Linked DNA regions of Homo sapiens. The protein of the gene in region 1 interacts with the protein of each later gene in a pairwise test. Each region holds a gene or a part of one and is shown in the gene's direction. Other genes may lie near its edges.

The links.
Region 2: the proteins of MORN4 (region 1) and RANBP3 interact in a two-hybrid assay, tested with the Homo sapiens proteins (2 studies listed by BioGRID).
Region 3: the proteins of MORN4 (region 1) and NUTM2F interact in a two-hybrid assay, tested with the Homo sapiens proteins (2 studies listed by BioGRID).
Region 4: the proteins of MORN4 (region 1) and PLAGL2 interact in binary tests that used the Homo sapiens proteins (3 or more experiments, as listed by UniProt).

Annotation. Positions count from the first base shown.
Region 1 is NC_000010.11:97,618,393-97,626,253, reverse strand, and holds part of MORN4 (MORN repeat-containing protein 4), read left to right. Parts: intron 1-6,570; 5' UTR 6,571-6,600; coding exon 6,601-6,667; intron 6,668-7,861. UniProt on the Homo sapiens protein: Plays a role in promoting axonal degeneration following neuronal injury by toxic insult or trauma.
Region 2 is NC_000019.10:5,921,015-5,928,875, reverse strand, and holds part of RANBP3 (ran-binding protein 3), read left to right. Parts: intron 1-788; coding exon 789-908; intron 909-3,138; coding exon 3,139-3,242; intron 3,243-3,970; coding exon 3,971-4,049; intron 4,050-4,961; coding exon 4,962-5,064; intron 5,065-5,572; coding exon 5,573-5,682; intron 5,683-7,554; coding exon 7,555-7,675; intron 7,676-7,861. UniProt on the Homo sapiens protein: Acts as a cofactor for XPO1/CRM1-mediated nuclear export, perhaps as export complex scaffolding protein. Bound to XPO1/CRM1, stabilizes the XPO1/CRM1-cargo interaction. In the absence of Ran-bound GTP prevents binding of XPO1/CRM1 to the nuclear pore complex.
Region 3 is NC_000009.12:94,323,137-94,331,577, reverse strand, and holds the start of NUTM2F (NUT family member 2F), read left to right. Parts: upstream 1-2,933; 5' UTR 2,934-2,954; coding exon 2,955-2,970; intron 2,971-5,643; coding exon 5,644-6,340; intron 6,341-7,575; exon of another isoform or gene 7,576-7,836; intron 7,837-8,441.
Region 4 is NC_000020.11:32,195,732-32,203,592, reverse strand, and holds part of PLAGL2 (zinc finger protein PLAGL2), read left to right. Parts: exon of another isoform or gene 1-113; intron 114-1,300; 5' UTR 1,301-1,414; coding exon 1,415-1,674; intron 1,675-5,910; coding exon 5,911-7,141; 3' UTR 7,142-7,861. UniProt on the Homo sapiens protein: Shows weak transcriptional activatory activity.

The DNA of each region.
Region 1 (7,861 bases):
AGGCATGTGCCACCACGCCTGGCTAATTTTTGTGTTTTTAGTAAAGACAGGGCTTCACCATGTTGGCCAGGCTGGTCTCGAACTCCTGACCTCAGGTGATCCATCTTAGCCTCCCAAAGTGCTGGGATTACAGGCGTGAGCCACTGTGCCCAGCCCGCTTGTTCTCTTTAAAAAAAAAAAAAAAAAAGGCATGAGGCTGGGTGTGGTGGCTCATGCTTATAATCCTAGCACTTTCGGAGGCCAAGGCCAGAGATTGCTTGAGGCTAGGAGTTTGAGATTAGCCTGGGCAACATAGTGGGACACGGTCTCTACAAAAAAGTTAGTTGGGCATGGTGGTGTGTGCCTATAGTCCTAGCTACTTGGGAGGCTGGGGCAGAAGGGTTGCTTGAGCCCACAAGTTCAGGGTTGCAGTGAGTTATGATCAAGCGATTGCACACCAGCATGGGCAACAGAGCGACACACTGTCTCCTTAAAAAACAAAAAATCGTTATGACATGAGGCCAAAATAAAAATATCCTGTAGGATGTTGATAAAGAGTGGATGGGTGGCAACTATAGTTTGTTTTTCCTCTACTTAGTATTCAGCTCTTTAGTCAAAATTGCTGAGATTTTCTTTTTCAAAGTGTTGTTTGAATTACATTGGTAGCAGTTTTTACTGAGGAAAGACCTAGAGAAGTTTTCATTACAGTAAGTATATGTGTGAGTTTAAGTGTAAAACTTTGAAAGAGGAAAGAAACTAACATTTAGTGGACAGGCCCTAGCAGTGTTCTAGGTACTTACGTGTGTGTCATTTTCTTTCTTTTATTTTTCTTTTCTGTCACCCACTGACTCTCAGATATTTAATTTAATCCACCTGCCAACTATGTGAAATACATATCTTATCTCCACTTTACAGATGAGGAGACTGAGATTTAGAGATACTTAAATACCTTGCCCATAATTATACAGTGAACTCATATTTGAACTCAAGTCCTCCTGTGCTCAGAGTCTACAACACCACCATATTATCCTGGGAGGCCAGATAGGATAGTATGGTATAAGTTAGCAAGTTACTGTAAGAACTTGTGCCAGCAAGGCCAGCTGTCAGAGCTCTGATTCTAACTTTCACGTGTTAGTTTCCACATGTATGACCTTAGTTAATTTACTTATCCTCTCTGCACCTTAGTTTCCTCATCCCTAAAGTGGAAATAATAATAATACCCACCCCAAAAAGTTGTTGTGAGATGAAATTAGATAATATATTTTAAAAACACTGATGCTCATGCCGTGTGCGGTGACTCACGCCTGTATTCTTAGCACTTTGGGAGGCCGCGGCAGGTGGATCACCTGAGGTCAGGATCACCTGAGGTCACCTGACCAACATGGTGAAACCCCATCTCTACTGAAAATACAAAATTAGCCAGGCGTGGTGGCGCATGCCTGTAATCCCAGCTACTTGGGAGGCTGAGGCGGAGGTTGGAGTGAGCAAAGATCGCGCCATTGCACTCCAGCCTGGGGAAGAATAACAGTGAAACTCCGTCTCAAAAACAAAACAAAACAAAAAACACTGATGCTCACACCAGTAATCCCAGCTACTTGGGAAGCTGATGAGGAAGAATCACTTGAGGCCAGGAGTTCGGGACCAGTCTAGGCACCATAGCGATACCCATCTCAACAAAAAATTTGAAAAGTAGCTGGGTGTGTTGGCACACACCTCTAGTCCCAGCTACTGGAGAGGATGAAGCGGGAGGATCACTTTAGCCCAGAAGTTTGAGACTGCAGTGAGCTCTAATCACAATCACACTACTGCATTCCAGGCTGGGTAACTGAGTGAGACCCCATCTCTTAAAACAAAACAAATAAACAACACTGATGGAACACAGTAAGAGGTCAGTAAATGTTAGCTTCTGTTATAAAGGTATTTCAGACAGCTTCTCTGGGGTTAGTGCAATTGATTATTAGAGAGGGTTGTGCCACCTGAATTGAAATATAAATAATCTAGCACTGTCCACCATGACAATGTGGAGAAAGCAAATTTAACATATGGGTTGTTTTAGTTGAACATTTAAAGCATCACTTTTGCATAAAATATACCAGACCCCTTTTGTGCTATGAAACTATGGAACCCACTCTTTGGAACTCCATCTTGACTGGATGAGGTTTTGGCTTCCCTGGGACTTGAAGGAAAAGGAAGCTAGCTGTTGGCGCCAGGCCCCCGAGATTTAAGAATCCCATCTTGCGGCCAGGCACGGTGGCTCATGCCTGTAATCCCAGCACTTTGGGAGGCCAAGGCGGGCGGATCACGAGGTCAGGAGATTGAGACCATCCTGGCTAACACGGTGAAACTCCATCTCTACTAAAAAATACAAAAAGTTAGTGGGGCGTCGTGGTGGGCACCTGTAGTCCCAGCTACTCGGGAGGCTGAGGCAGGAGAATGGCATGAACCCGGGAGGCAGAGCTTGCAGTCAGCCGAGATCATGCCACTGCACTCCAGCCTGGGCAACAGAGTGAGACTCTGTCTCAAAAAAAGAAAAAAAAAAAAAAAGAATCCCGTCTTGTTTTGAGCTGGGAGCAGTGGCATGCACCTGTAGTTCCAGCTACTCAGAAGTCTAAGAGGGGATTGGAGGATCTCTTGAACCTAGGAGTTCAAGTCCAGCCTGGGTAACATAATGAGACCCTGTCTCTAAAAGAAAAAAGAATTCTTTCCTGTTTCTCCACCAGGTCTGGCCCCAGTACTCTGAGGAGAATGTGTCCTTGTCCTGTTGGAACTCAGTCAGATGCCTGAGGGTCAGACTCTAGGTTACTTATTAATCAGAGGGGACTTTTTTTTTGGAGGGGGACAGGGTCTCGCTCTGTCACCCAGGCTGTAGTGGCACTGTCATGACTTACTGCAGCCTCAGACTCCTGGGCTCAAGCAATTGTCCCTGCTCAGCCTCCCAAAGTGCTGGAATTACAGGCATGAGCCACCATGCTTGGTTGATAGAGGACTTTTCAATAGTGATTTATAGTTCAGAGAACTTTTCACACACAGTATTTCCATTTATTGTAGCAGTAGGCCACAAGCTTTGAAGTAAGGATCTAATGATGTGCTTATTAAAACTGCAGGTTCCCAGGCTCTGACTACAGAATCTGATTCAGTAAGTCTGAGTTTGGGCCTAGGAATCTGCATTGTCAAAATTACTGGAGAAAACATTGTATTGCTTAGATCTGGAAAAGATGAGGAGGTAGCTAGATGTGGTAGTGTGCGCCTGTAGTCCCAGCTACTCAGGAGACTGAGGTGACGGGATGCCTTGAATCCAGGAGTTTGAGGTTACAGTGAGCTATGATCGTGCCACCGTGCTCTAGCCTGGGTGACAGAGCAAGACCCTGTCTCTAAAAAATAAATAAATAAATAAATAAATAAATAAATAAATAAATGAAAGATGAAGGGATGAATGAAGAGACCTAGGGAATTAAAAAAGAAATAGGGCTTGTATTTTTTAGTCTATCAAATGACGTACTATTTGCCTCTGTTTATATTTAATGATTTTGGGGGGTATCTTAATTCCCTCTTCTTCTTCTTCCGTTTTTTTTTTTTTTTTTGAGACAGGGTCTCCCTCTGTCGCCCAGGCTGGAGTGTCGTGGCGTGATCTTGGCTCACTGCACTTCTGCCTCCTGGGTTCAAGCGATCCTTCCACCTCAGCCTCCCAAGTAGCTGGGACTACAGGAACGCACCACCACACCCGGCTAATTTTTGGATTTTTTGTAATTTTGGTACAGATGGGGTTTCACCATATTGCCCAGGCTGGTCTCAAACTCCTGAGCTCAAGTGGTCCGCAAGCCTCAGCCTCCCAAAGTGCTGGGATTGTAGGTTTGAGCCACCGTGCAGTTCCCTTCTTATAGAATATCCTTCAATACATCCTTTCACCACTAATGTGAAGCCATATCTAGCCAGTCCCCAAATGTTACTGATTGTTTTCCTATGATGTATCCCCCCAGTTGTTCCTTCTGCTCCCATTATACTGTGATCTCCCAGACTCATGCCTGAACGTATCAGTTAGCTTTTTCTGGGTAATAACACACCACCAGAAAACACAGTGGCTTGAAACAATAACCATTTATTTATCCTGTGAGTCTGTGGTCGCTAGTTTGGGGCCGGGCTCAGAAGGGCAGTTCTTCTAGTCTTGCCTGAGCAATTTGTTCATCTGTGGCCAGCTGGGACAGGGTCTCACCATCCAGTAGACTAGATTGGACTCATTTACATGGGGGCAGAACAGGTCCAAGTGTAGCAAGAGGGCAAGCCCAGTGCACAGGTGCTTTGCAGACCTCTGCTAGATCACCTTTGCGAACATTCCATTATCTAGAACAAGTCACACAGCCAACCCAGGTCCAGCAGGTGGAGGAATAAATAAACTCTGCCTCTTTTTTTTTTTAGACAGAGCCTCACTCTGTCGCCCAGGCTGGAATGCAGTGGTGCGATCTTGGCTTACTGCAACCTCTGCCTCCCGAGTTCAAGCAGTTCTTCTGCATCAGTCTCCCGAGTAGCTGGGATTACAGGCACCCGCCACCACGCCCTGCTAATGTTTTGTATCTTTAGTAGAGACAGGATTTCTCCATGCTGGCCATTCTGGTTCAGGTGATCCACCCACTCCGCCTCCCAGAGTGCTGGGATTACAGGCGTGAGCCACCGCACCCGGCCAACTCTGCCTCTTAATGGGAGGATCTGCCTTGTCACATTGTAGGGTCATGAACGGAGGGAGAATAACTCTGCCCATTTTTACAATTTGCTTCATTATCATATTTCCCTTCCTTGCAAGCTTTTCTGACTATGGACTTGCTGCTCCAATTCATCCCACTTCGTGCTACCACATTCATTTTCCTTACACACTGCCTTCATATTACATCCTGGTTCACAAACCCGCAGAGGTCGCCTCTTTTCCTCCCTCATATGCTGTAAACTCTTATGCCCAGCTTTCAAAGGTCTCTTTAAGTTAGCCTGAGCTAAAAGCAGAGGCTGTGCTGTACAGGAAAAAAGGACTAGCATAGTCAGGGGAGGCTGTCAACAAACTTTATTACCTCTCTGGGCTTCTATTTCTCCTATAAAATGAGAGGTTGGGCTAAATCCATGAGATTCTTTTCAGATTTATTTATTTATTTATTTATTTATTTATTTCTCGAGACAGAGTCTTGCTCTGTCACCCAGGCTGGAGTGCAGTGGTGTGATCTCAGCTCACTGCAACCTCTGCCTCCTGGGTTCAAGCAATTCTCCTGCCTCAGCCTCCTGAGTAGCTGGGATTACAGGTGCCCGCCACCACACCCGGCTAATTTTTGTATTTTTAGTAGAGATGGGGTTTTACCATGTTGGCCAAGCTGGTCTCGAACTCCTGACCTCGTGATCCGCCCACCTCGGCCTCACAAAGTTCTGGGATTACAGGCATGAGCTACCACGCCCGGCCTATTTTTTGTTTTTTAATTTTACATTTTTGACATGAGGTCTTGCTATGTTGCCCAGGCTGGTCTTGAACTCCTGGGCTCAAGTGATCCTCCCACCTCGGCCTCCCAAAGTGCTGGGATTACAGGTGTGAGTCACTGCACCAGGCCTCTCTTCAAATTTAAGATTGTGGCTACATGTACCTACACAGGCTTATTTCCTAATACTCCCCAAATAAACCCTCAACTGTAATGAGACCAGGCTTCTTATTTTGCCATGGAACATCTCGTGTTCACATTGCCCTTAGAGTGTTCCTTGCCCTTTGAGTGTTGGTTCCCCATATTTTCTTTTTTTTTTCTTTTTTTTTTTTTTTTTTTGAGACAGAGTCTTGCTCCGTCACCCAGGCTGGAGTAACAGTGGTGTGATCTCAGCTCACTACAACCTCCGCCTCCCGGGTTTAAGTGATTCTCCCGCCTCAGCCTCCCAAGTAGCTAGGATTACAGGCTCCTGCCACCACGCCCAGCTAATTTTTGTATTTTTAGTAGAGACGGGGTCTCACCATGTTGGCCAGGCTGGTCTCAAACAACTGACCTCAGGTCATCCCACCCACCTCGGCCTCCCAAAGTGTTGGGATTACAGGCGTGAGCCACTGCCCCTGGCCTGTTCCCTATGTTTTCTGATTCTGGAATTGCTCTTTGCCTTCTCCACTGCTTGTCTGCTTGTTTTAAATTCTGGCCATCTCATGTCTTTGTTAATCTCTGCCATCCAAGTTGGCACTTAATCACATTATCTCTGGCATAATTCAGTGTTTAAATTGTTAGTCTTATTAACTAGATTATAAACTCGTCAAGGGAAGATACTGTATTTTATACATCGACTGAGCACATAGTAGGTATCAAATAAATATTTGTAGATTAATATTTGTAGATTTCCATCCCAGGTCATAGAAAATAGGAACTGGCTGAAAACTTTTAAGATAAGCAGGAGGATAAGAGCACTTGGGCAGAGGTGGAGATGATGGTGCTGGTGGTGGTTGGAGATAGGGGTATTTTGGTTAAATGCACCTAAGGCAGTGTACACTTACCAGGCTGGTGGCCTTTAGAATGTATCTATAAAATTGCCTTGCAGTCCTTTCCTCCCGCCATTCCATGACACTGGTTCTCCTTTGCTTATTTCCTACAGTTTCATCCTTTTATCCTGTAATCTGTCACCATGACCCTGACAAAAGGTTCCTTCACCTACTCCAGTGGGGAGGAATATCGTGGCGAGTGGAAGGAGGGTGAGAAGGACCCCTGGGGAGTATCCATGATGAACACTTCATTTGCTGGAGGACAAATACATCAGGATATATAGCCAACTTTATGGATCTTCATTTTCAACTCCAGGATTTAATTCCATATAGTGCCTGCCATTCCTTTATTCCATTTTAGGATTAAATAAAGGAATTTGAAAATGCTATTGTTAATTCAACCTCCAGGAATGAGTTATATCTTTCTTTTTTTTGCTTCTGTTTTTGTTTTGTTTTGTTTTGTTTTTTGAGATGAGGTCTCGCTCACTATGTTGCCTAGGCTGGAGTGCAGTGGTGCAATCTCAGCTCACTGCAACCTCTGCCCCCTGGGTTCAAGCGATTCTCGTGCCTCAGCCTCCCAAGTAGCTGGGATTACAGGCGCCTGCCACCACATCTGGCTAATTTTTGTATTTTTAGTAGAGACGGGGTTTCACCATGTTGGCCAGGCTGGTCTCGAACTCCTGACCTCAGGTGATCTGCCCACCTCGGCCTCCCCAAGTGCTGGGATTACAGGCATCAGCCACCATGCCCGGCCCATGCCAGCCTCTCTTCTAAGCATTTTGTATTTATCATCTTATTTAATCCTCATGACAACCTTATGAGGTAGGCACATACTATTATTATTCCCATTTAACAGATGGGGAAATTGAGGCAAGGAGAAGCTAAGTAACTTACTCAAGATCACAGAACTCTAAGTGGTAGAACAAGAAGGCAAACACAGCAGGCAGCCTGACTCGGTGTCCTCAAAATCTAACTACATTGCCTCTCTGAGGAAAAAAAAAAAAAAAAACAACCAGTATCCATTTAGCACCTTAAAGCTACTGGGCAAATCTAACAGCCTGATTAGCAGCACTGGTTTCAGCTTCATTATAACAACAGGGCTGTGCTTACTCTCTGAACTGACCAGAAAACAGAGCAAGATGTTGCAGGAGTAATCATGCCTTTCAAACAGAATTCAAGGGAGTTCTTGTGGTGGATACAGCCCACCCAGCAGAGCCTCAGGAAGTCTCTCCTCTAACAGTCCGCATTAAAGGGGACACCAGGTATTTGAAAGCCAGGAAGAAATGCCTGGGATTGGAGGAGCCAAGGTCACATCACACCTGTACAATTTCTCTCAAGGCTCAAGAATTTAGGGCAGGCACAGTGGCTCATGCCTGTAATCCCAACACTTTGTAATCCCAGCTA
Region 2 (7,861 bases), on another chromosome or scaffold:
TTTCATCATGTGGTATAGGAAAGACATATACAAATTACTAGCAACTCCATATTCCATTATCTCAAGATAAATGCATTTGGTCTTAGGATATTTAGTTACAAAAAAGTCATGCCTACATGTTGAAAATATTTACACAAAATGGAAATCCTAGAAAGTAACAAGCAGGAGCCACCCTCCAGCTAAGAGGTTCCCGGGTAACCTCCGTCAGTAGTTTGAATTCTCTCTCCCGACTTATTTTCCTGGGCATTCCTCAACACACATACACACCACACATACACACACACACACACCACACACACGGGACTGGATTGGCTTTAACAGAAATGGAATCGCACTTCCGTGTCCCACAAGCTGCTCTCTTCTCTGATCCATGTATTGTGGGCATGTCAGAGGCCTACCTCCCTCTCGGTGGTAATAGCTGTGCTGTACTTTTTTTCCCCCATATTTTCTATTGTAAATTATTTCATTCCTTGGCCAATGATGAGCAACCAGGTTATTTCCTGTCCTCTGCCGGCACTAAGGCTTCTGCAGGGCACAGGTGTTTCTTGTTGTTTGGAGACAGGTTTTTGCTCTGTCACCCAGGCTGGAGTGCAGTGGTGTGATCTCAGCTCACTACAACTCCCAGGCTCAAGCAGTCCTCCTGTCTCAGCCTTCTGAGTAGCTGGGAGTGCAGGCACATGCAGAGGAGACGTGTGGAGTACATGATCTGGTGTGGGATTGCTGGGCATCCGTCTGGGCCAAGTGTGGCACTGGTTTTGATTACTCTGTTTTGTTTTGGTTTTTGATAGGAGAAAGAGCCCCAGAAAAATGAGTCCAGCAATGCCTCTGAAGAGGAAGCCTGTGAGAAAAAAGACCCCGCCACACAGCAAGCCTTTGTATTTGGGCAGAACTTGAGGGACAGAGTTAAGGTATGTGAGCTGTTGAACCAGCACATTGACTTTTTATGCCTTCCCCAGGTTCAACAGCAGGCAAGTAGGTAGATTTTCCTTTTAACAGGGGAGGGGAGCGTGGGACAAAGAAGGTGTTAGCGAGGCAGCCCCATGGCTCACGGCACAGTCTGCTGCTGGTGTGCGTGTGCTGGGCCCTGGCACTTCCCCACCAGCAGCCCAGGCTTCGGAGCCCTCACCTGCAGTGACTTCTCAAGTCAGGGTCCCTGGTTCTCATGGTAGCGGGGACAGGGAAGGTGACTGAACCTGAGGCCTCAGGCTTTCATAGCAGAGAAGAAAGACAGCACGGTCCAGTGTTCTCAGCTCTGCCCAGAGGTTTCTGTTCCCGTATTTCAGGGTTTCTCTGTTTCAGCACTAGCAGCATTACGGCTGGACCATTCTTAGTTTCTGAGGAGTCGCCCTGGGCACTGCAGGGTGCTGAGCAGCATCACTGGCCTCCACCCACCCAATGCTCCTGACATCTGACAACCACAAATGTCCCCAGACGTGGCCAGTATTCCCTGTGGAGTAGAATCGCCCCCATTAAGAACTGTCACCTTATTTTTTTTTAAGTGGGGCAGGGTGGGGTGACAACACTGTCTTCTCTCCTGAAAGGGAGCAAAGCGTCTGCCACCTCTTGGCTGCCCTCCAGACATGTGGTCCTAGTTTGGAGATTGTGTGGTGGGGAAGGGATGGCAGTGGTTGGAAACAGTGGCCCTGGACCATGCACTGGGACTCTAGGAAGACCAGGGTCAGCCAGCACCACCTTTCCCAGCCACAGACATGGAATGTGCTACGGCATCTCTAGCAGCTCCACTGGCAAGAAGCTTCTTTCAAAGCTCGAGAGGCGGTATCGGTGGCTGTGTCTAGAGACTTTTGTGGTTGTCACAACTGGGAGGTACTTCTGGAGGTCAGGGATGCCACTCCGCCCCTTGCAGTGCCCAGGATAGCCACACCACAGGGAATGTTCTGGGCCCAGTGTCAACATGTCAGTAGTGTCGACGGGGAGGGCCCTGAAATAAACAAAAACCTCTCTAGCATGCAGAAAGCACCGGCTTGTGTTTTCTGCTTTCCTTTCTGTTACTCACCGTCCAACAGAAGCCCAAGTCGAGAAACGTGGAAAGTTGATGTTGCTGTTGCCATGGCTTTAGGCAAAATAATGAGTCCCTCAGGGGCTGTTCCCTCCAAGGAGGGAGGGCAAGAGGCGGGGAAGGGCTTGGCCTGTGGAGTTCAGGCCCTGTGGAATCTCTGCCTTGAGTCTGGGGAGACAGCTGCTTTGAATTTGGTGGGGTTGGCTTCTTGCAGAAGTCAGAGGCTTACGTGCACTTCGCAGTCTCAGTCAAATCCCAGCCTCTCCTTCCAGGGCAAACTTGAGCCATGGATTCTTTTTTTTTCTTTGGACACGAAGTCTTGCTGTGTCGCCCAGGCTGGAGTGCAGTGGCATGATCTCTGCTCACTGCAACCTCCACCTCCTGGGTTCAAGCGATTCTCCTGCCTCAGCCTCCCAAATATCTGGGATTACAGGCGCCCACTGCCACATCCAGCTAATTTTTTGTATTTTTAGTAGAGGTGGGGATTTCTCCATGTTGGCCAGGCTGGTCTCGAATTCCTGACCTCAAGTGATTCCCCGCCGCCTCAGCCTCCCAAAGTGCTGGTATTACAGGCACGAGCCACCGCGCCCAGCCAGAGCCATGGTTTCTTAACCCTCTGAGCCTCTGCTTCCTTGTTGGTCAAACAGGGTCCCTAACATCCCCCTCCCAGGCCTCGTGAGGATTAAAGCAGATCGTGCATTTGACAGACTCAGCATAGCAGCTGGTAGGAAAGAGGCCCTCAAGAAATTCTGCTTCTATCATGTTCATAGTAAACCCCCCAAAACGTCAGCTTTGTAACGTTGTGTTATTGGTATGAAGCATTGACCGAGAGGCCAGCTTAGGCGTGGTTTTATAACAAGGCGTGGTTTTGTAACAAGGTGGAAAAGGCTCCTTGGAGCTTCATGAGCTCTCTTTCCATCCTAACTGTTAAAGCAAAAGGTGATGGAGTTGATTATAGCCCTGCCCCCCAGCACATGCACGCGCACACACACAGGCGGGTACAGGAGAGGGTTCATGGCTCCGAGCAGCTCCATGCAGCTCAGGGGGTCTGCAGACACTGAGCTGTGGAACTCCAGGCACCCCCCCACCCCCGATTACTGAGCGCTCCGTCTCATTCCCAGCTGATAAATGAGAGCGTGGACGAAGCCGACATGGAGAATGCTGGACACCCCAGCGCAGACACGCCAACCGCAACGAACTATTTCCTCCAGTATATCAGTTCCAGGTGTGTGTCTCGGTGTCAGCGGCCAGCCTGGCATGGCGATGCAGGTGGCCGCGAGGGCTTCTGCCAGAGAGGGGTCTGTGGTCCCCGTGCCCGACTCAGGCCCAGAATCCAGGTTGCTCTCAGGCCCCTCTCTCTCATTCCCCACTCTGGGCACAACCTTGGGTGGGCCAGGGTGGTGGGCCTTGTCCTGGGATTCACTGGACGCCTGAGACAGGACCAGAGTTCTGTGGGGTTGTCCAGGGGCCCATGGAGGCTACAGCCCAGCCCTTGGAGTGTGCCCTCTGTCTTGTGGACCTCATGCCCAGAGCAGAACAGAGCAGGCCAGAGGCGACTCAGGCGCCCCCTTATTCTGGGTTTGGGCACCTGGGGCAAAGACCTCATCATGTCCTTGACTGACATGGCTGGGGGTAATGCTACCCACGGACCAGCTGCCCCTCCAGGTGTCTCAGAAGAAAGCGTGTCCCGACTGGGAGATGGGCGGGTAGAGCAGGTGGAAGGTGGCTTCCCTCATGCTGTGGGGCCCCTCCATCAGGGCGAGCTAAGGGTTAATGTTTTCAATGGCACAGGGAGGTGTGTGGCTTCCTGCCTCTGACACGCCACCCCGTGCACAGTGGCGGAGGCCCCTCCACTGTGCCCTCTGTGTCAGTGTGTGCTCCATGGGTACCCATACATTTGCCTGGCCACGTTCCCACGTGACGCCCCACACTCATTGCACATCTTCTCTTCAGTTTAGAGAACTCAACCAATAGTGCCGACGCCTCCAGCAACAAATTTGTATTTGGCCAGAACATGAGCGAGCGAGTTTTGGTGAGTGGCTGTGTTGGGAATGTTCTCAGGGACCAGAGGCTCTCGGCGCCAGCCACAGGTCAAGGGGACATGGAGAGCAGGGCTGCTGTGTCGTCCTATGTGAGATGGGGATGCCTTCAGTAGCAAGTGAGAGAGGGAAGACCCTGCTCAGACTCAGCCTGAAAACTGGCCAGGGCCACTGGCTGCCTACGAACTGGCATTCGCTTTTCCCGGCTCCTCCGTGCTGACCAGGGCCAACTTCATCCCAAGATGGGCTTCCCTGGAGGCTGCAGGGTCCTGCTGGCAGTCGGGGTCCATGGTTCCTCCCCACCAGGCCAACTGACAAAAGTCCTGTGGGACGGAGCCAGCCGTGCTGGTGGACAGGGTTGCTGGCCTCCCTGCTCCTGTGAGCATAACCGCGGCCAAGGCCTTGGGTGCACGAAAGGCCCATCTCCGTTCCCAGGAGCCCAGCCAGCCTGGGAGAGGGTTCTAGAATGGTTTGCCTACCTCTTTACACATGTTCCTTTTTCTTCCTGATTCCACCCAGCTCCATTGCGACTGCGTGAGGGCCTGTCCTGAGCCGCCTGGTCACTCTAGCTCTGTCTGGAGTTAGGCTGCATTAAGTACTCTGCAGCTTCTCTTCCTTCGTGGCCACGCTGTGCTTTTTCTATTTCAATGAAATGTTCAAAGTCTTGCCTCACCCAGACGGAGTGACCAGTGTGGCTCGAGGGGACTGTCGGCTGGTGGCACTCACCCCGTAGTGATGCCTGAGGGACCACGTGGGGAGCTCCCAGGCAGTTCAGGGTGTCACCGGGAGTGGGCAGGAGTGCTGGGGGCAGCGTAGTGTTGGGGGCCAGGCAGAGAGGTGCTCAGAGCTGCTGCTGAAGGACCACACAAGTGCCCTCTTCCTTGTATGCTTTTGTGTCCCTGCAGAGCCCCCCAAAATTAAACGAGGTCAGTTCAGATGCCAACAGGGAAAATGCAGCTGCCGAGTCAGGGTCTGAGTCCTCGTCCCAGGAGGCCACCCCTGAGAAAGGTATGTTAGCGTCCCACCACAGCATGGGGCTCATGGTAGGTCATCTTGGGGGATGCTGGGTCCATTCACACCCCCAGCCGGGAGGGATAAGGGGCCCGACTCCCGCAGCAGTAACAACCACATGTGAACCAGCTCCAGGGCCCTGCCTTGCAGTGAGCAAGGGTTTGTGATAAAGAACTCGAGGGCCTGTGTCGCCTTGTGGCCGTGGGGAGGGTGGGGAGGCGCAGGCAGCAGGCGTGGAGGAGTCCCTCACTGTCCCCCCGTCGACTGCTCGGCACGAACACGAGAGTCTGGGGCCACACTTGGCCCCCAGATGGTCTCCCTGCAGCTTCTGAGGCCATATGCTCTGGCTGTGTCTAGGGTCCACTTGGGTTGCCGGGGCAGGCCTGCCAGGGGCAGCAGGCGTCCTTGAGACCAGAACCAACCCTCTCATCTCCTGTCGGATGAGGGGAGATGGCTCTCCTCTCGCCAAATAATCAGTCAGTCTTTTTGGCCAATAACTTTTCAGAGTCCCTGGCTGAGTCGGCAGCCGCCTACACCAAGGCAACAGCGCGGAAGTGTTTGTTGGAAAAAGTGGAAGTCATCACCGGGGAGGAGGCGGAGAGCAATGTGTTACAGGTGAGGGGCCGGCCCCTCCTCGGTGGCCCTGGGTCTTCCATGCACCTGGGGGTCCAACCGCAAGGGCTGGGCCCACATCCTCTGAGCACACAGGCCTGCCCCTGAGATGACGGAGGGGCCACTGGCCCCACGCTCTGGGACTTTGTTGGTGGCGTTTGTAGAGAGAGCTTAGGCTCAGGGGCTTCTTGCATGTCTTTGGTTTCAGAGGAGGAGGATCTGTTTGAGACATTCTTTGTTTTGTTTTAATTTTTTTTGAGACAATGTCTTACTCTGTCACCCAGGCTGGAGTACAGTGGCACAGTCTCGGCTCACTGCAACCTCTGCTTCCTGGGTTCAAGGGATTCTTGTGCCTCAGTCGCCTGAGTAGCTGGGATTACAGGTGTGCACCACCACGCCAGGCTAATTTTTGTATTTTTAGTAGAGACGGGGTTTCCCCATGTTGGCCAGGCTGGTCTCAAACTCCTGACCTCATGTGATCCACCCGCCTCGGCCTCCCAAAGTGCTGGGATGACAGGCGTGAGCCACCACGCCCAGCCCGAGACATTTTTGATGGTTCAGGGAATGACAAAGACTGTCATACCAAACATATTCTCTTGTCGCCCAGAGCTGGCAACTGTATTATTTGTCACCTGGCATCCTGTGGTGTCTTCGTAGGGAAAAGATCAGGTGCGGCCAGAGGTTCCACCCCACCGTCCCCTCCTGGCATCCCCCATTCCTGCTCCTCAGGCCGCACCACCCGGCTTGGGCAGCATCCATGTGCTTCCTCTCCCGTGGCACATAAGCAGGTGTCTGTGTCTGTAAACCGGGTGGCGTATCGTGGCGTTCTTAAGAGCACTGTTCTTTTTTCCCACTTACCACTTTGTCATCTGTTCATGTTGAAAGAGATTGACTTAGGGGGTATGTGGAAAGCCATGTAGGGGTGTCTGTCTCGTATTTTTCTTTGTTTATATATACAAAACTGCTGTATTGAAATATAGTACAAATGCTATATAATCCATCCTTTTAAAGCATACAATTCCGTGGTTTCTAGTATATTCACAGAGTCAGACAACTTTCACCAGAATCTAACGTACAACATTTCTGCCCCCAAAAAGAACACTGTCCCATTCCCCCAGAAAGAGCATTGTCCATTCGCAGTAACTCCTCCTCCCTCCCCAGCCCCTGGCAGCCACAGATCCACTTCCTGTCTCTGTTTTTTGCCTGTCCTTGACATTTCATATAAATGGCATCAACGCACTATGTGGCCTTTCGTGTCTGGCTTCTCTCGCTGAGCCAGAGGTTCATCCACGTTGCAGCGGGGGTCGGAGCCTTGTTCTTTATTAAGACTGAGTGAGATGCGCTGTAGGGGCGGACCATGTGTGTCACTCCATTCCTCCTTGAGACTTGGCTACCGTGAATGATGGTGCTGTGCACGTTCATGTGCGATCTGTGTGTGAACACGAACAAATGTTCCATTTCTCTTGGGTACATACCGAGGAATGGAATTGCTTGGGCATGTGGTAATTCCTTGTTAAGCAGTTTGAGGAGCCGCCAGACTCTTCCACAGCAGTGGCACCATGCGGCCTTCCCGCCAGCAGTGTGTGAGGGTTCCAGCTTCCCCACATGGGTATAGCCGTCCTAGAGTGCGCAGAGAGGCTTCTCACCGTTGTTTTGCTTTTCATTTCCTTAGTGATTCTTTTAATTTCAGATACCCCTTATACAATGTAAAGCCTGTTCTAGCTTGAGGGCAGGACAAAAAACTGACCAAGGTGGCCCCCAGGCCGTCGTTGGCTGGCCCTGGCAGTCCCCACAGGCTAAAGGGCGACTCTCAGGGTGTGGCTGCAGCAGGACACCAGCTGGGGTCCCTGCTTACCGGCGGCCACTGTGTTCCAGATGCAGTGCAAGCTGTTTGTCTTTGACAAGACCTCACAGTCCTGGGTGGAGAGAGGCCGGGGGCTGCTCAGACTCAATGACATGGCGTCCACCGATGACGGCACACTACAGTCCCGACTAGGTGAGCTGCCGACGGCGGGGGCTGTGGCCGGGTCCCCATGGGGAGGGCTGGGGACTATGCAATTCCAAAGGGAATGAAGCGGGGGAGATCCTGACCCTACCCTTGTGAGAGTCAAGGCACAGAGTCGGTCTCCCATGAGAGCCGCCCCCCAAACCCCCTCCCTGCACCCAGCCCTCAACACCACCC
Region 3 (8,441 bases), on another chromosome or scaffold:
ACACATACAGAAGCGATTGCAGAATTGAAACAAGACACTTCCACAATATACTTTTTGTATCAGTGGCTCAGAAAAAGACTCATTCAAATCCTGTATCAAAGCCATGTGTGAGCATCTTGAGAAAGCATTGACTGACTAACTTGACAAGGGAGGAAGCAAACAAGAATTCTGCCCTTCTTCAGTGCCTGAGTGTGATATTTTGCCTCAACATCCCTCTTAGATGAAGTTACTGATTGAAAATCATTTAAGTTTTTGCCCCGTGATAAAAGATCGCGTCCTCAGAAAGATCTCCAAAGCATTTACTGTTTGTTTGGTTTGGTTTTGGTAAGTTTACCATGATTTTGCTTGAATTGCTCTCCGCTGATCTTCTCAGCTAAGATCGAGGTAGAGTTGCACAGCAGAAGAGGGCTGCATGTAAGGAGGCAGCTCTGTCTCGGAGGACAAAAGGCCTGGGAGCATCCAGACAGGCAGTCACTGTGTGGAGGTCACTCCCCTCCCAGTGGCCACTGTGGAGGCATTTCATAGAAATGCTCGCTGGACCATTCAGTTTTAGAGTTGGGACAAAACCGAGAACTCATGAGGATATCGGATAGGAGTTAGGAAATGACTTTTTCACACAACCCAGGCAAGGAGGGGAGAACCCTGGGCTTGAGACTTGCAATCCACTGCCTGCCCCTGCAGTGTGGCCCGTTACGTTTTCTGCAACTCTGCCTTCTTGAGTCCAAATGTCTTTGAAAGGGGCAAATGCTTCTTAAGTGCCAACAGGGTGTGTTTCAGTGAATGTTCACAGTGTGCACTGGTCCGGCTGAAGGCCTCTTCCCTTCCCCAACACCCACCCATCAGTGCAAAAGACTGCTGCCCAGCAGGGAGTGACATCTGTGTCTCAGATTTTCTTGCTGTGCTCTGAGTACTCACTCCTCATCTCCTTTGACCAGTTTCCTAACACTCCCCTTGTTCACAACACAGAACATGAGTGCTCTTTCCTGTCATTTTGACGCTGATAAACAGCAATTCTGTGTGAAAATGAGAATGAAGATTTTTTTAAAGACAGGCTACAATAATTCCCATGCTGAGAACCACATGTGATGACACTTGTGATGAAGATGAGGACAGCAACGAGCTGAGAGACTCCAACCAGGATTCACACATGCAAGGGGATGCATGAGAATGGGGATGGGACATTGGTGGTTAGCATCCTTGCTTGTCTCAGAATGGACGTGGGTTGTGGATTTCTAACTCCTGGAGAAACCAGAGTTCTAGGAATTGTAAGCCACTTTATGTTAGGAAAGAAAAAGACGGTGTTCTGCTCTCCTGTCCCTTAAAACTGTGCGTACTGCCACTAAACCTGGAAGCTGAGAACGGTATAATGGCTACTCCTGACTTCCTTTCATCAAATCAGCCTGCTATTGTTTTCTGCAATGGTTGTGGTGCAGAATCTTTTTGTGGTGCAGCCAAGATTCACACTTGAGTCTCCTTACTGCAAGTTCGCACTCTCACAGTGGAGAGTTAACAATAATTGCCTAATATGTTACACTTTTTTGGGAAGAGTTACCAGATAAAGTGCAAGATCCCAGTGAAATGTGAATAGCACAGATAAAGGACAGATTTTTTTTTTTGTAAAAGTGTACTCTAAATGTCATATGGATCATAATTATAGTAAAAACTAATTCACTGTTTATCTTCAATTCAAATTCCACTTGGTATTCTTTATTCATACTTGCTAAATCTGGCCACTATGTTCTTTCATGTATTTTTAATTTTAAAAAACAGTCCAACATCTCATTCTAGCAATTTACCTACAGAAATAAAGAGAGGAACCACATTACTGGGACAAATACAGTCACTGCAAATATCAGAAGAATACTAGAACATATTAATATATTAATTTTTACCCCCAAAAAACTGAAAATATTTTTAGACAGCAAAAATAGCTTCATTATGCTTTTGATTGCATAATATATCTCTGGAAAGATGAAAAAGAATCAGATAACACCTATTTCCTCCAGGAAAGAAAATGTGGTGGCCAGAGAAAAGAGGTGGGAGGAAGGCTGGTCATTGTCTATTCCACTGTGCACAATTTGAATTTGGAACCATGCAAAAGTATTGCTTAGTTAAGTTAAAATCATGTAAAAGATACAAAATAAACATTTAACACCAGCACAATATGCTGGGAAACAAAATGAAAGGATTTCTGGTCTCGGTGCTGTAGGTCACATAGCCTCTCTTTCCTGGACTGAGTCTTCCTAAGAAAGGGGACGGGAAGTAAGGCTGGCCTACTGGTGTGGACAGATTCCAGCAACATACATGACCTGGGGGCACAAGGACTGCTTCCTAAACAATGATGAGCACACAGCCACCTAATAGCCTGGATCAGCTGAGGCCATTCTGATTTCAAACACTCAGTCCCCTTGCCTTCCTAAGAACCCCTGTGTTTCTCAGACTGAAAACGTGTTCTGAATTTTGTTAAGTAAGTGTGGCCCCTGTTGAAATTCATCAAGAGTGGGAAAGAGCCAAAGTGGGAAGGAGCATGGGTTGATTGGCACAAAAGTAGGTCTGTTGATAAAGAATGGAAGTAAAGGGGACATCAGGTAGAAGCTTTTGCTGTGAGTCAGAAGGACAATTTAAAAGTTGCCTAAAGAGGCGCACACTGTCTGTGTTGCTGCCATCCAGTTGGATGGCAACCAACTGAACCAAGGGAACCTCAGGTTCTTGCCTACTGGCCAGAGCCCTTCACAGAATGTCCCCCACCCCCGCCAAGCCCGGCTGCCCACTGCCCCTCCCCCTCTGCAGAATGTCTGGGGTCCTGTGTTCCAAACCTGTTTATATGCAAATTATCCCTGCTCCACTTGGACTCAGGAGGATCTGCTGAGTCAGGTCACTCTCTGGGTCCTGCCCTTGACTTTTTTCATTGCGGAAGCTGCCAGACAGTGGTGGTCAGTGCCCAGCCTGAGGGGATGGCTTCAAATGGAGGTGAGCCTGTAGGGATGGGGCATTATCCGAGTCTGCCTTGCCTCAACTCCTTGGGAATTCAAATTTGAACTGTCCCTGGGGACAGCTTATAGGGCTGATGTTGAGGGAGGGAGCACTGGATGTCCCCAGGGACATCACACCTGGGGATGGCCATGGCACCCTGAGTCTGTGGTTAGGGAGGAGGGCTCCTTAGAGGCGGACCAAGATGCCTGGGGGAATACACCGTGTAGTGGAAAGGATGGAGAGGATGGGTTGATCCTTTCTAGAGGGGGACAGGTCACGTCATTGTGTTTGTAGGGAGTGGTGGGATCGTGTTGTGCTGGTGGCCCAGGGAGAATGACGGGCAAGCCTGAGCCCTGTGCCGTGTCTTCAGGCACCTGGAAGGTGCCCTTCCATAGTGTTTAGAGGGATTTGGACTGGAGTTTTCTAGTTCTTAGAGAGGAGTGGGGAGAAGTGGTCTCAGCCAGAAAACTGTTGGGTGGGTTGGCTGTGACAGAGCATGTAGTGACAGCCTCTGGGTGGGCAAGGCTGGGGGCCACTGCAACTGCCACAGCCCAGAGCCTCTCAGCTTCCTCCCCAGAGATGGCTTCTCCGTCAGTTCAGGTAGCTGTTGGCTTTGATTTAACAGGGGTGGGGGCAGAATGGGGAAGTTCAGGCAACACAGGGCCTGGGTTTCCTGAGTTGTTCTGAATTGTTTGCCCTTTGGTGGAAGCTCAGGTCTTCAGACCCACTTCCTCTCGTCAGCTAGCTCATGGCCCGTCCTCTGTACTTTGTGTTACTGTGGAGGTGAAGAATTTGCTCCTGTTCCATTTATACTACCTCATGAACGGGCGACAGGTGTGGATTCTTGCTGGTTCTCAGTGGAAGGCTCTGAAAAGGCTGGTTTCCTTTTCAGTAGAGGAAGGAGAGTAGCGCACAAATAGGAAGACAGTCCTATTATTATTATTATTCAAACTAGGATGTGTGTCCTGACTGATGAGGTGCATGTGCTGTATCCCTTATTCCCCTTGGCTAGAGACTGCATGAGGTCCTAGTGAACAGGGATGAGTTCCAGACAACTCTGCCTCACCTGGCCTGTGGCCCAAGAACCCCTGGTTCTTCGTTGGTCCCTATGTTCAGTTACTGGGAGCTCAAAGGAGAAGGACCAGAGATGGGCTCCCTGTCCCACTATTTAGTGTAACATGACTAGCAGCTGTGAAAATCCCTGGCCGGGCGCGGTGGCTCACGCCTGTAATCCCAGCACTTTGGGAGACCAAGGCATGTGGATCACGAGGTCAGGAGTTCAAGACCAGCCTGACCAATATGGTGAAACCCCGTCTCTACTAAAAATACAAAAATTGGCTGGGCATGGTGGCGGGCGCCTGTAATCCCAGCTACTCAGGAGGCTGAGGCAGGAGAAGTGCTTGAACCTGGGAGGCAGAGGTTGCAGTGAGCTGAGATCGCACCACTGCACTCCAGCCTGGGTGACAGAGCGAGACTCCGTCTCAAAAAAAAAAAAAAAGAAAAAAAAGAAAATCCCTAGACACCTCCCCTGATAGCCCTGCTGCTCACCATTTGCTGGCTGTGTTCTAGTCATGTGCAGCTGTTGCTGGCTACACAATGACAATATCTCAGGGGACTCCACCACTGCTTCTCAGATCTGCTCCCTGGGAACTGAGCTTCCTGAGTGGCAGCTGGGACCACTGAGCACTGAGGAATGGGTGGCCTGAATCTGACCCCTATTTAACACTTGTGTGGGTGGTGCCAGGACAATCACTTGCATGCTGGGCGTGATGTGTTATGGGTTATCTTCAGGGTTCCTAGGGCACTGGCTTGGGTGAGTTTCCATCCAGTGGTTTTCTTTTTTTTTTTTTTTTTTTTTTTTGAGACGGAGTCTCGCTCTGTCACCCGGGCTGGAATGAAGTGGCACGATCTCGGCTCACTGCAGCCTCTGCCTCCTCGGTTCAAGCAATTCTCCTGTCTCAGCCTCCTGAGTAGCTGGGATTACAGGCACGCACCATCAGCTAATTTTTGTATTTTAGTAGAGACGGGGTTTCACCACGTTGGCCAGACTGGTCTTCAACTCCTGACCTCAGGTGATCCACCCGCCTGGGCCTCCCAAAGCGCTGGGATGACAGGCATGAACCAGCACGCCCGGCCTATCCAGTGGTTTTCTTTTGTTGTGTTGAGCTAGGAAAGAAAGGGGTTTACAAGAGCTTCAGGGAAAGGAAGACTGAAGAGGAGATGGGGCCATAATATTCGGAAACTTCTGGTTTCCTGTCGGCCTTCTGAATGCCGAGCACTGCCCTGGGGTAGGCCCCTCACCTGCTGCTGAGCACACTGAGAGCCACCAAGCCACCGAGAGACTCATCCCTGACCCATGGCTTGGGAGATGCCTGTGAGGCTGGTGCAGTCTGCCAGGGACACCCGAGGGAGACCCTCAGAGACAGCAAAGGCTTGGCTGTTTCTTCTTGGCAGACAAGGGTCAGGGAGTCTTGGTGACTGGCGCCAGGCTCTCTAGTGGAGCGACTCTGCCGTGGAGGAACAGAGCATCTGATGCACACTCAGGGACACTTGCAAGCTGCAGAGTTTCCCTGTCACATGCCCTCAGCTGTTGGGACTCCCCTGATTCCCCAGTGACTAGTGTGGACCTGGAGACGCCAGCTCATTCACCTCTTTCCTTTGTCTCCACAGCATACCCAGTGCTGGGACCCGGCGTGACCGTGAACCCTGGCACCTCCCTGTCTGTGTTCACGGCTCTGCCCTTTGCCACACCCGCTCCCGGCCCAGCACACAGGCCGCCCCTCGTGACTGCAGTGGTTCCTCCAGCCGGCCCTCTGGTGCTCTCTGCCTTCCCCAGCACCCCTCTAGTGGCAGGACAGGATGGCCGCGGCCCGAGTGGGGCCGGGGCTTCCAACGTCTTTGTCCAGATGAGGACAGAAGTGGGGCCTGTGAAGCCCCCTCAGGCACAGACCTTGATCCTAACTCAGGCCCCCCTCGTCTGGCAGGCTCCAGGCACCCTCTGTGGAGGTGTCATGTGTCCACCTCCCCTACTCCTGGCAGCTGCTCCTGGGGTGCCCGTTACCTCTGCCCAGGTGGTTGGGGGCACCCAGGCCTGTGAGGGAGGCTGGTCCCATGGCCTTCCTCTTCCACCACCACCACCGGCTGCCCAGGTGGCCCCCATCGTGTCCCCAGGGAACGCTAGGCCATGGCCACAAGGGGCTCATGGAGAGGGCAGCCTGGCTCCCTCCCAGGCCAAGGCCCGGCCGGACGACTCCTGTAAACCCAAGAGTGTCTATGAGAACTTCCGACTCTGGCAGCACTACAAGCCCCTGGCCCGGAGGCACCTTCCCCAGAGTCCTGACACTGAAGCGCTTTCCTGCTTCCTCATGTGAGTGTCCTCGGGGCGCCGGAGCTTGTCCTGCAGCTCACTCATAAAGAGGCTGCTGGATGGACAGGAGGTCACACTGTTCAGGGGAGCTTGCAGGGCGGTTGTGAGGGTGATGGGTTGTGCTATGGGAAGGTACGTTTTCAGCAACATTAATCTGGCTGCGGCTCAGGACAGACTGTCAGGGGCCTCACGTCAACTGCCTGTCACTGTCCCGTGAGTCCAGCCAATCCTTAATTTTTTTTTTTTTTTTGAGATGGACTTTCACTCTTGTTGCCCAGGCTGGAGTGCAATGGCGCGATCTCAGCTCATCACAACCTCCGCCTCCCGGGTTCAAGTGATTCTGCTGCCTCAGCTTCCTGAGTAGTTGGGATTACAGGCATGTGCCACCATGCCTGGCCAATTTTGTATTCGTAGAGATGGGGTTTCTCCATGTTGGTCAGGCTGGTCTTGAACTCCCGACCTCAGGTGATCTGCCCGCCTCAGCCTCTCAAAGTGCTGAGATTACAGGCATGAGCCATCATGCCCCGCCCCAATACTTACTTTCTTTTCTTTTCTTTTCTTTTTTTTTTTTTTTTGAGATGGAGTCTCACTCTGTCGCCCAGGCTGGAGTGCAGTGGCGCGATCTTGGCTCACTGCAAGCTCTACCTCCCAGGTTCACGTCATTCTCCTGCCTCAGGCTCCCGAGTAGCTGGGACTACAGGTGCCCACCACCATGCCCGGCTAATTTTTTTGTATTTTTAGTAGAGACGGGGTTTCACCATGTTAGCCAGGATGCTCTCAATCTCCTGCCCTGGTGATTCGCCCGCCTCGGCCTCCCAAAGTGCTGCGATTGCAGGCATGAGCCACCGTGCCTGGCTTTCACTTTCAATAATTTTCACAACAATGTTTACAGAAGACCCAGGTCAGAGAGCGTTCTTGGTGTGACATGAGCCACGGTTAGGGTTTAGGTCTTTTTTGTTTGTTTGTTTGAGATGGAGTCTCGCACTGTCACCCAGGCTGGAGTGCAATGGTGAGATCTTGGCTCACCGCAACCTCTGCCTCCTAGGTTCAAGCGATTCTCCTGCCTCAGCCTCCCAAGTACCTGGGCTTACAGGCGCCCGCCACCATGCCCAGCTAATTTTTTGTATTTTTTAGTAGAGACGGGGTTTCACTATGTTGAGCAGGCTGGTCTTGAACTCCTGACTTTGTGATCCACCCGCCTCAGCCTCCCAAAGTGCTAGGATTGCAGGCGTGAGCCACCGCACCCACCCTGGGTTTAGGTCTTTGAGTGTACACCCCAGTGCCTTCCCTCGAACTGAGTGTCAATGGCCAGGGGCACATCACATGGGGCTGGGGGGAGGAGCTGCAGGGCCCAGCAGGAACCTGGCACACACCCACACTGTTCTGCCGCGGTCCAGTTAGCACAGCGGTGGTGGAGCCTGCACAGGGGGATGGTCTTGGGACCCGCACTAGGGTCGATGCTGGGCAGGTATTAGCATCTTCACCGTCAATCCCCCCTAGAAAAAAGGACAATGGTGTTTCATTCAGAGGATGGCAAAGAGATGACCTGAGCTCACATATGACATACGTAGCACAGTGCCTGGCACATACTATGACACATTACATGACAGCAGTTATGATTACTGTCCCCATTACTACCATTATCAGGACTAGGCCATCTAGGAGAGTGCTCCCCAAAGCCACGGGCTCCAGTGATAGCTCTGAGTGCACCACGAGCCCAGCAGCCCAGAGCCGTGGACTGTGGTGACTGTGAGGCAGCAACATCAGCATCTGGGAGAGTTTGTGGTTTCATTCCCAGTCCCTGCCTCTCTCCACCCCGCGGCACCTCTGTGACCCTGTGTTTCCCGCTGATGAGCAAACAGGAGCTTGAGCATATCCACCGTGCAACACACTGGCCATTCCCCTAGGGGAGTCCCCTGCCTGGGGTGTAGGTGAAGGCGGCCCCGTCTTCCTCCCCAACAGTCTCGCTGCCCCCACACCCTGGAACTGGTTGCATCCCCCCTTGGAGCGGAGTCCCGGTGCACTGGGGACCCTGATTCTTGGAGTGTAGCCGCCCCGGGCTCACAGGCCTTTGCCTTGGCTCCTGTGGGAATGTGGGAAG
Region 4 (7,861 bases), on another chromosome or scaffold:
GACACCCCCTTTTCTCTCTTCACATGGAAAAGCCTCATGATCAAATTTTGGCACCATCTCTTCAAAGGGAATCCCCCTGTTGTAGCAGGTTGCATCGTGGTTGGTAATCTGTGGTAAGCTTGGGAGTATGAATGTGGGTCTCTTGTCCCCTTTTGAGAGTCAGTGTGGTAACTCCCATCCTCTTCCTCTGGATTAGTATCTGGAATGGAGTTGTGTCGTTCTTGCACATCTCCCCTTCTATTCAACAAGAGAAAGAATCAGACTTTAAGATTTCGGCTCCCCACTTGGGAATGGCTGCGAACCCAGTTTAAACCAGAACTACCTGGGCCTAGGTTGGTCCCTGAGAATCAACCTGCATTCAGTGACTAGTTTACCTATCTGAAATAAAGTTAGGGTTCCTTTTCTAGATATTAGGTATATAGAGATGAAAGAGAGATGATGCAAGCCCTCAGACAATCAGGCTGGTGGAGAGGAGTAAATTCCAATGCGAGCTCGCTACCGTCTTCTAAAGGAGATGTGCATATGTACTCTGAGGCCCTGTAGGAGGGGCCTCTCAGCACCTAGGGGTGTTGGACAGGCTTTGCTAAAGAGGGATGGTCTGGGCCCTGAGACACAGTGACCCAGAGAAGTGGTGGTGGTCAGGATGGGACCAGTTCTAGTCCTGGTTTAGGGAAAATGCTAAGAATCTGCTGTTGCCTTCCCATATAGACCCTCCTGATGTTGATGCACTGCTAAGAAACACATCTGGTACCAGGACTGACTAGGATGTAAATTTCCTAAGTAGAGGCTTCCCCTTCCTCCTCTCTTGCCTTTTGGGCATTTTATTGCTCCTTAGCACCTCCATGAGGAGGACAATTGTGGAAAGTAGTGGACGAGGAGGTGCCAGGGTAATAAGAAGGAGGAACCGCTATCTCTAGGTTCAATGGAAAGGATATAAAAGTGAGGTCCAGAAGAAAAAGTTTGAAGTTTTGGGGCTTTTGGTTCCTCAGTTTATCTTGTTTCTTATTAGCCTAGATGGTACTAGTAATAGTAGCTACCACTAAGCACTTAATGGATGCCCAGCCTTCTGCTGAATGCTTTATATTCATGATCTCATTTAATCCTCAAAACATTTTTATAATTTAGGAGATTATTATGCCCATTTTATAAATGAGGAAACAGCTCAGGGAAGTAAGTAATTGGCTGAAAGTCACACAGCTTCTAAGTGGAAGGGCTGGGATTGGAACGGGATCTGTCTGCTTCCAGAGCCCATGTTCTCATGGTATTGGGCTCCCTAACACCAGGTGTTCTGATGTTTCAGGTGAAGAGATTGTTTTCTGAAAGCTGCGTTGGAGGCTGTGACAGAGCTGAGAGCCTGTGTGGAGCGGATGGGGAGGCTTTCTCAATAACATGGCCCTTTGCCATTAGCCTTGCCATGACCACATTTTTCACCAGCGTCCCCCCCTGGATTCAAGATGCAAAGCAGGAGGAGGAAGTGGGCTGGAAACTAGTTCCCAGGCCTCGGGGCCGGGAGGCGGAGAGTCAAGTGAAGTGCCAATGTGAAATTTCGGGAACACCTTTCTCAAATGGGGAGAAGCTGAGGCCTCACAGCCTCCCGCAACCAGAGCAGAGACCATATAGCTGCCCTCAGCTGCACTGTGGCAAGGCTTTTGCTTCCAAATACAAGCTGTATAGGTAGGTGACACTCTCATATCTCTTCCTGCCCTGAGGTTCCCAGAGGGAAAAAGCAGAGAGACTCTGCCTAGTGTGGGTTTTTAATCTGTGGCAGAAGAGTGGAGGTTAATTTGTCCTACAAGTATACCCTGAATGCCAAACAGTTGAAGTCACTCACTAAAAAATGATTCAGATTGCTTGATTCAGACACTAGAATCTGATGGGTTGCCTCCCCAAAGTATTGGGATTGCTGGCGTGAGCCACTGCACCTGGCCTTCTTACACCTTCTTAGTGACGATCTGGGTGCCAATGTCAGGCAGCCTTGAGTTTTGTTTGTTTGTTTGTTTGTTTTTTTAAGAAATGGGAGTCTTGCTCTGTCATCCAGGCTAGAGTACAGTGGTGCAATCAGCTCACTGCAGCCTCCAATTCCTGGGCTCAAGTGATTCTCTTGACTCATTCTCCCAGGTAACTAGGATTACAGGCTTGAACCACCGCACCTGGTTGTTTTTAATTTTTTGTAGATATGGGGGTGTGGCTGTGTTCCCCAGGCTGGTTTCAAACTCCTGGGCTCAAGTGATCCTCCTGCCTTGGCTTCCCAAAGCAGTGAGATTACAGGCATGAGCCACCGCACTTAGCCCTGAACATTTTTTTTTAAATATTGCTTTCCTCACCTTTGTCAGGTGATGGTCAGAATTTTAGCTAGAAGTTAGGAATCAGTATTCGAACTTTAGAAGGAAAAGTAGACCTTCTGGCCCAGTCTGTAAATTTTAAAGTAGAGGTTCAGAGTAGGGACATAACTTACCCAAGGTCACACAGCTTCAGAGGTCCTGCAGTGCCTCTTCTACTGAATCAGCCTGCTACTTACTCATTTAACTATGTCTGTCTCCCTGTTGCCCACTGGGGCAGCTGCTTTTCTGAAACTTGTAAGCCCAAGAACCCCTACTTAAAGTGAAATTAAACGTAAAAGCCCTGACATAAGGCAGATAGAGAAGAGCAGCTTTGGTTGCTTTGGTGAGGATGGGGAGGCATGGTCAAAAGCAATTTTGGGCCAGGCGTGGTGGCTCGCACTTGTAATCCCAGCACTTTGGGAGGCTGAGGCGGGCGGATCACTTGAGGCCAGGAGTTTGAGGCAAGCCTGGCCAACATGGTGAAACCCCATCTCTACTAAAAATTTTTTAAAAATTAGCTGGGTGTGGTGGCACATGCCTGTAGTCCCAGCTACTTGGGACTCTGTGGCAGGAGAATCACTTGAACCCAGGAGAAGGAGGTTGCAGTGAACTGAGATTGTGCCACTGTACTCCAGCCTGGGTGACAGAGCAAGACTGTCTCAAAAAAAACAAAAAAGAGCAATTTTGATTTTATCCTTTTCGCATTAGAGGAACCATGAACTTGCCCTTTAGAAATGAGATAGATCAGCCGGGTGCGGTGGCTCACGCCTGTAATCCCAGCACTTTGGGAGGCCAAGGCAGGCGGATCACGAGGTCAGGAGATCGAGACCACGGTGAAACCCCGTCTCTACTAAAAATACAAAAAAAATTAGCTGGGCGCGGTGGCAGGCGCCTGTAGTCCCAGCTACCGGGAGGCTGAGGCAGGAGAATGGTGTGAACCCAGGAGGCAGAGCTTGCAGTGAGCCGAGATCACACCACTGCACTCCAGCCTGGGCGACAGAGCGAGACTCCGTCTCAAAAAAAAAGAAATGAGATAGATTGGCCTGATGCACAGTCATCCAACCATCCATTCATCTATCCAACATTATTGAGCTCTTGCTCTGTACCAGGCACAGTGCTCGGTGCAAGGGGCGGAGTAGTGAGCCAGACAGATGGGGGTGCTGGTCCTCCTTGGGTTTATGGTCTTAATAGTGGGTACAGACAGTAAACAAGTAAATACATGAACAAGATGACCACAAAGCCTCAGTTCCTCATCTGGAAAACAGTTAATAGGAAGGGACTAAAATAGGCAACAGGGTAGCATGGTAGTCAGGATTGCCCTCTTGACAATTCTGTGGTCCTCAGGAGTGCTTAGATTCTCTGTGTGCTCCTATAAGTTAAGGGAACTCCAGTCAAGGCCATACTCTTAGGCTTTCTTTTTTTTCTTTTTTTTTTGAGACAGGGTCTCACTTTTGCCCAAGCTGGAGTATAGTGGCGTGATTATAACTAACTGCAGCCTCAAACTCCTGGGCTCAAGTGATCCTCCTGCCTCAGCCTCCTGAGTAGCTAGGATCACAGGCATGTACCACCACCACACCCGCTAATTTTTGCATGTTTCCTAGAGACAGGATCTCTTCCCTGTGTTGTGCAGGGTGATCTCAAATTCCTGGCCTCAAGCAGTCCCTCCACCTTAGCCTCCCAAAGTATTGGGATTACTGGCATGAGCCACTGCACCCGGCCTTCTTAGACTTTCTTAATGATGATCTGGTTGCCAGTGGGCGGCTGCAGGAAAGGTCCTGGGTCAGGAGGCAGGAGCCCTGACTCATCACATATAATTTACTGTGTGATCTTAGGTGAGTTGCTAGACCTCTTTGGGCCTCAGTTTCCTCACCTGCAAAATGAGGGAAATGAAAAGTGGATCACTCAGCACCTCCCTCTCTACATTACCACGTCAGTTCCATCACAGGAGGTTGACAGTAACCCACATAGGCACGAGCACTCTTGAGCATGCATATGTGGGATGTGGGCAGGGGGTGTGTTTGATACCCTCCAGGTAGAAAGGATCACAGAGTGCTGTACGAGAGAGAGACAGCTGTTGCATACCTGACTGAACATAGGTCTTCCGAAGGCCTGTTTAAATTCAGCCTCTGCTAGGGTGAGGGGGCTGCCTTTTTTTTAGACTCCTTTCCTTGTCTGGAGATCAAGGTTAATGACACAGCTTATGCAGAGCCTGGCAAACAGTGGGTGCTGAGTTGATTCTGAATATGCTCTGGAGCTGTGAATTGCAGTTCCTGGATTCTGAGCCACTTTTCAACCATATAGGATCAGGTAAACCAAGGGACACTGAAGTGCCATACCATTAAAACATTTCTTAAAGTGTTACTGGTTTATATGACAAGCAATTCAAGTGGTACATACTGGCATGCAGTGAAGAATGAATGATCCTCACACTCGAAGTCACTATTCCTCTCCCCAAAGGCAGCTGGTGGGTTGGTTTTTGTGTATCCTTCCTAAGACATTCAAACATGTATATTCTCTTTCTTTTTTATTTTCAAAACAGATTGTATCACATGTACTGTATTGAACTTCCTTTTTTGACTTAGCCCTGTATATCTTGGAAATTTGTTCTAGATAAGGAAGTTTATTTATTTATTTAGAGACGGAGTCTTGCTCTGTCACCCAGGATGGAGTGCAGTGGTGCGATCACAGCTCACTGCAACTTCAAATTCCTGGGCTCAAGTAATCCTGCCTTAGCCTCTTGAGTAGCTAGGACTACAGGTGCATGCTGCCATGCCCATCTAATGGTTAAGATTTTGTAGAGACAAGGTCTCGCTATGTTGTTCAGGTTGGTCTGAAACTCCTGGGCTCAAATGATCCTCCTGCCTCACCCTCCCATAGTGCTGTGATTACAGGCATGCACCACTGTGCCCAGACTGCACGTTTAGGTATATTTTATTTTCTCTTTATTGTATCATTTAAAATTATTTAAATGTAATGTTTAAAAAATGAAATACTTTCACGTAATTCAAAATTCAAAAAGTACCAAAACTTATACGATGAAAATTCTCCATGACACCCATCTATAAGCTGTTCGGTTCTTTTTCGCATAGGCAGCCACTGGTATCAGTTTCTTGTATGTCCTTCCAGAAATATTTTAGCCATATACAAGCAAACATACATATATTTTTCCCCTTTTCACATAGAGTCCTAGTCTACATCCACTATTCTGCCTCCTTGCTTTTTTTCTACTTCCTGTCTCTTAGGAGCATGTTCCCTGTAAGTACACAAAAAGCCTCATTTTTGAAAAGTTGAGTCATTTTATGGACTTATCATAATTTATGTAACCAGTTCCCTATTGATAGATTGGACGTTCAGATTGTTTCTGATTTTTTTTGCTACTACAAGCAATGCTGCAAAGAATGTCGGTACACATTATTTTGCAGATAGGCAAGGATATCTGTAGAATATAACTGGTTTGGTATTGCATTGCAAGCCTTTACCATGGTTTTTATATCTAGTTTCCTGTTAATGGACACCTTTGGTTGTCCAGTCATCCCTTGTGATCTCCCCTCTTTCTGCTTTCTCCCCTATCCCCTGTCTCTACCCCCAGGCACATGGCCACCCACTCAGCCCAGAAACCCCACCAGTGTATGTACTGTGATAAGATGTTTCACCGCAAGGACCATCTGCGGAACCATCTGCAGACCCATGATCCTAACAAAGAGGCCCTCCACTGCTCTGAGTGCGGTAAGAATTACAATACGAAGCTGGGCTACCGGCGCCACCTGGCCATGCATGCTGCCAGCAGCGGTGACCTCAGCTGCAAGGTGTGCCTGCAGACCTTTGAGAGTACCCAGGCCCTGCTAGAGCACCTGAAGGCCCACTCACGCCGGGTAGCAGGCGGTGCCAAGGAGAAGAAGCACCCCTGTGACCACTGCGACCGGCGGTTCTATACTCGTAAGGATGTACGGCGGCACCTAGTGGTGCACACAGGCCGTAAGGACTTCCTGTGCCAGTACTGTGCCCAGCGGTTTGGCCGTAAGGACCACCTGACGCGTCATGTCAAGAAGAGCCACTCGCAGGAGCTGCTCAAGATCAAGACAGAGCCCGTGGACATGTTAGGCCTACTCAGCTGCAGCTCCACAGTCAGTGTGAAGGAAGAGCTGAGCCCTGTGCTGTGCATGGCCTCTCGGGACGTAATGGGGACCAAGGCCTTCCCTGGCATGTTGCCCATGGGCATGTATGGTGCCCACATCCCTACCATGCCCAGCACGGGCGTGCCACACTCCCTGGTGCACAACACGCTGCCCATGGGTATGAGCTACCCTCTGGAATCCTCACCTATCTCTTCCCCAGCTCAGCTCCCTCCAAAATACCAGCTTGGATCTACCTCATACTTGCCCGACAAATTGCCCAAAGTGGAGGTGGATAGTTTTCTGGCGGAGCTTCCTGGAAGCCTGTCTCTCTCATCCGCTGAACCCCAGCCCGCCTCACCTCAGCCGGCGGCAGCTGCGGCCCTCCTAGATGAAGCACTGCTTGCCAAGAGCCCCGCCAACCTCTCTGAGGCCCTCTGCGCTGCTAATGTGGACTTCTCCCACCTACTGGGCTTTCTTCCACTCAACCTGCCCCCGTGTAACCCACCTGGGGCCACAGGAGGCCTGGTCATGGGCTACTCCCAGGCTGAGGCACAGCCCCTGCTTACCACTTTGCAAGCTCAGCCTCAAGATTCCCCAGGAGCTGGGGGACCACTGAACTTTGGGCCTCTGCACTCCTTGCCTCCTGTCTTCACGTCTGGCCTGAGTAGCACCACCCTGCCTCGTTTCCATCAAGCATTCCAGTAGCCCCCACAGAGGCCCTCAGCTCAGTTTTTGGCTCTGTTATGGAGCCTTAGTACCCACCCCGTCTGTGTCCCCCATGAAGGCAGCTGAGCTTTCAGAGCTGGGTTCAAAAAAAAAAATTCCAGTGTCTGTATACAGGAGCACTTGGTTTGGGGGTTCAGGCTCTAGGATCGATTCCAGAAGGAGCCTTGAGCCCCAACCCCGTGAAAAGATCTCATACCGTAGGACTTCAGGTATTATTTACTTTTATTTTTTTGACCTGAATCGGGAGCCACACTTGGCCCTCTTCCTCTCCAAAGCGCCAGAACCTCCTTCTCTTTGGAGAATGGGGAGGCCTCTTGGAGACACAGAGGGTTTCACCTTGGATGACCTCTAGAGAAATTGCCCAAGAAGCCCACCTTCTGGTCCCAACCTGCAGACCCCACAGCAGTCAGTTGGTCAGGCCCTGCTGTAGAAGGTCACTTGGCTCCATTGCCTGCTTCCAACCAATGGGCAGGAGAGAAGGCCTTTATTTCTCGCCCACCCATTCCTCCTGTACCAGCACCTCCGTTTTCAGTCAGTGTTGTCCAGCAACGGTACCGTTTACACAGTCACCTCAGACACACCATTTCACCTCCCTTGCCAAGCTGTTAGCCTTAGAGTGATTGCAGTGAACACTGTTTACACACCGTGAATCCATTCCCATCAGTCCATTCCAGTTGGCACCAGCCTGAACCATTTGGT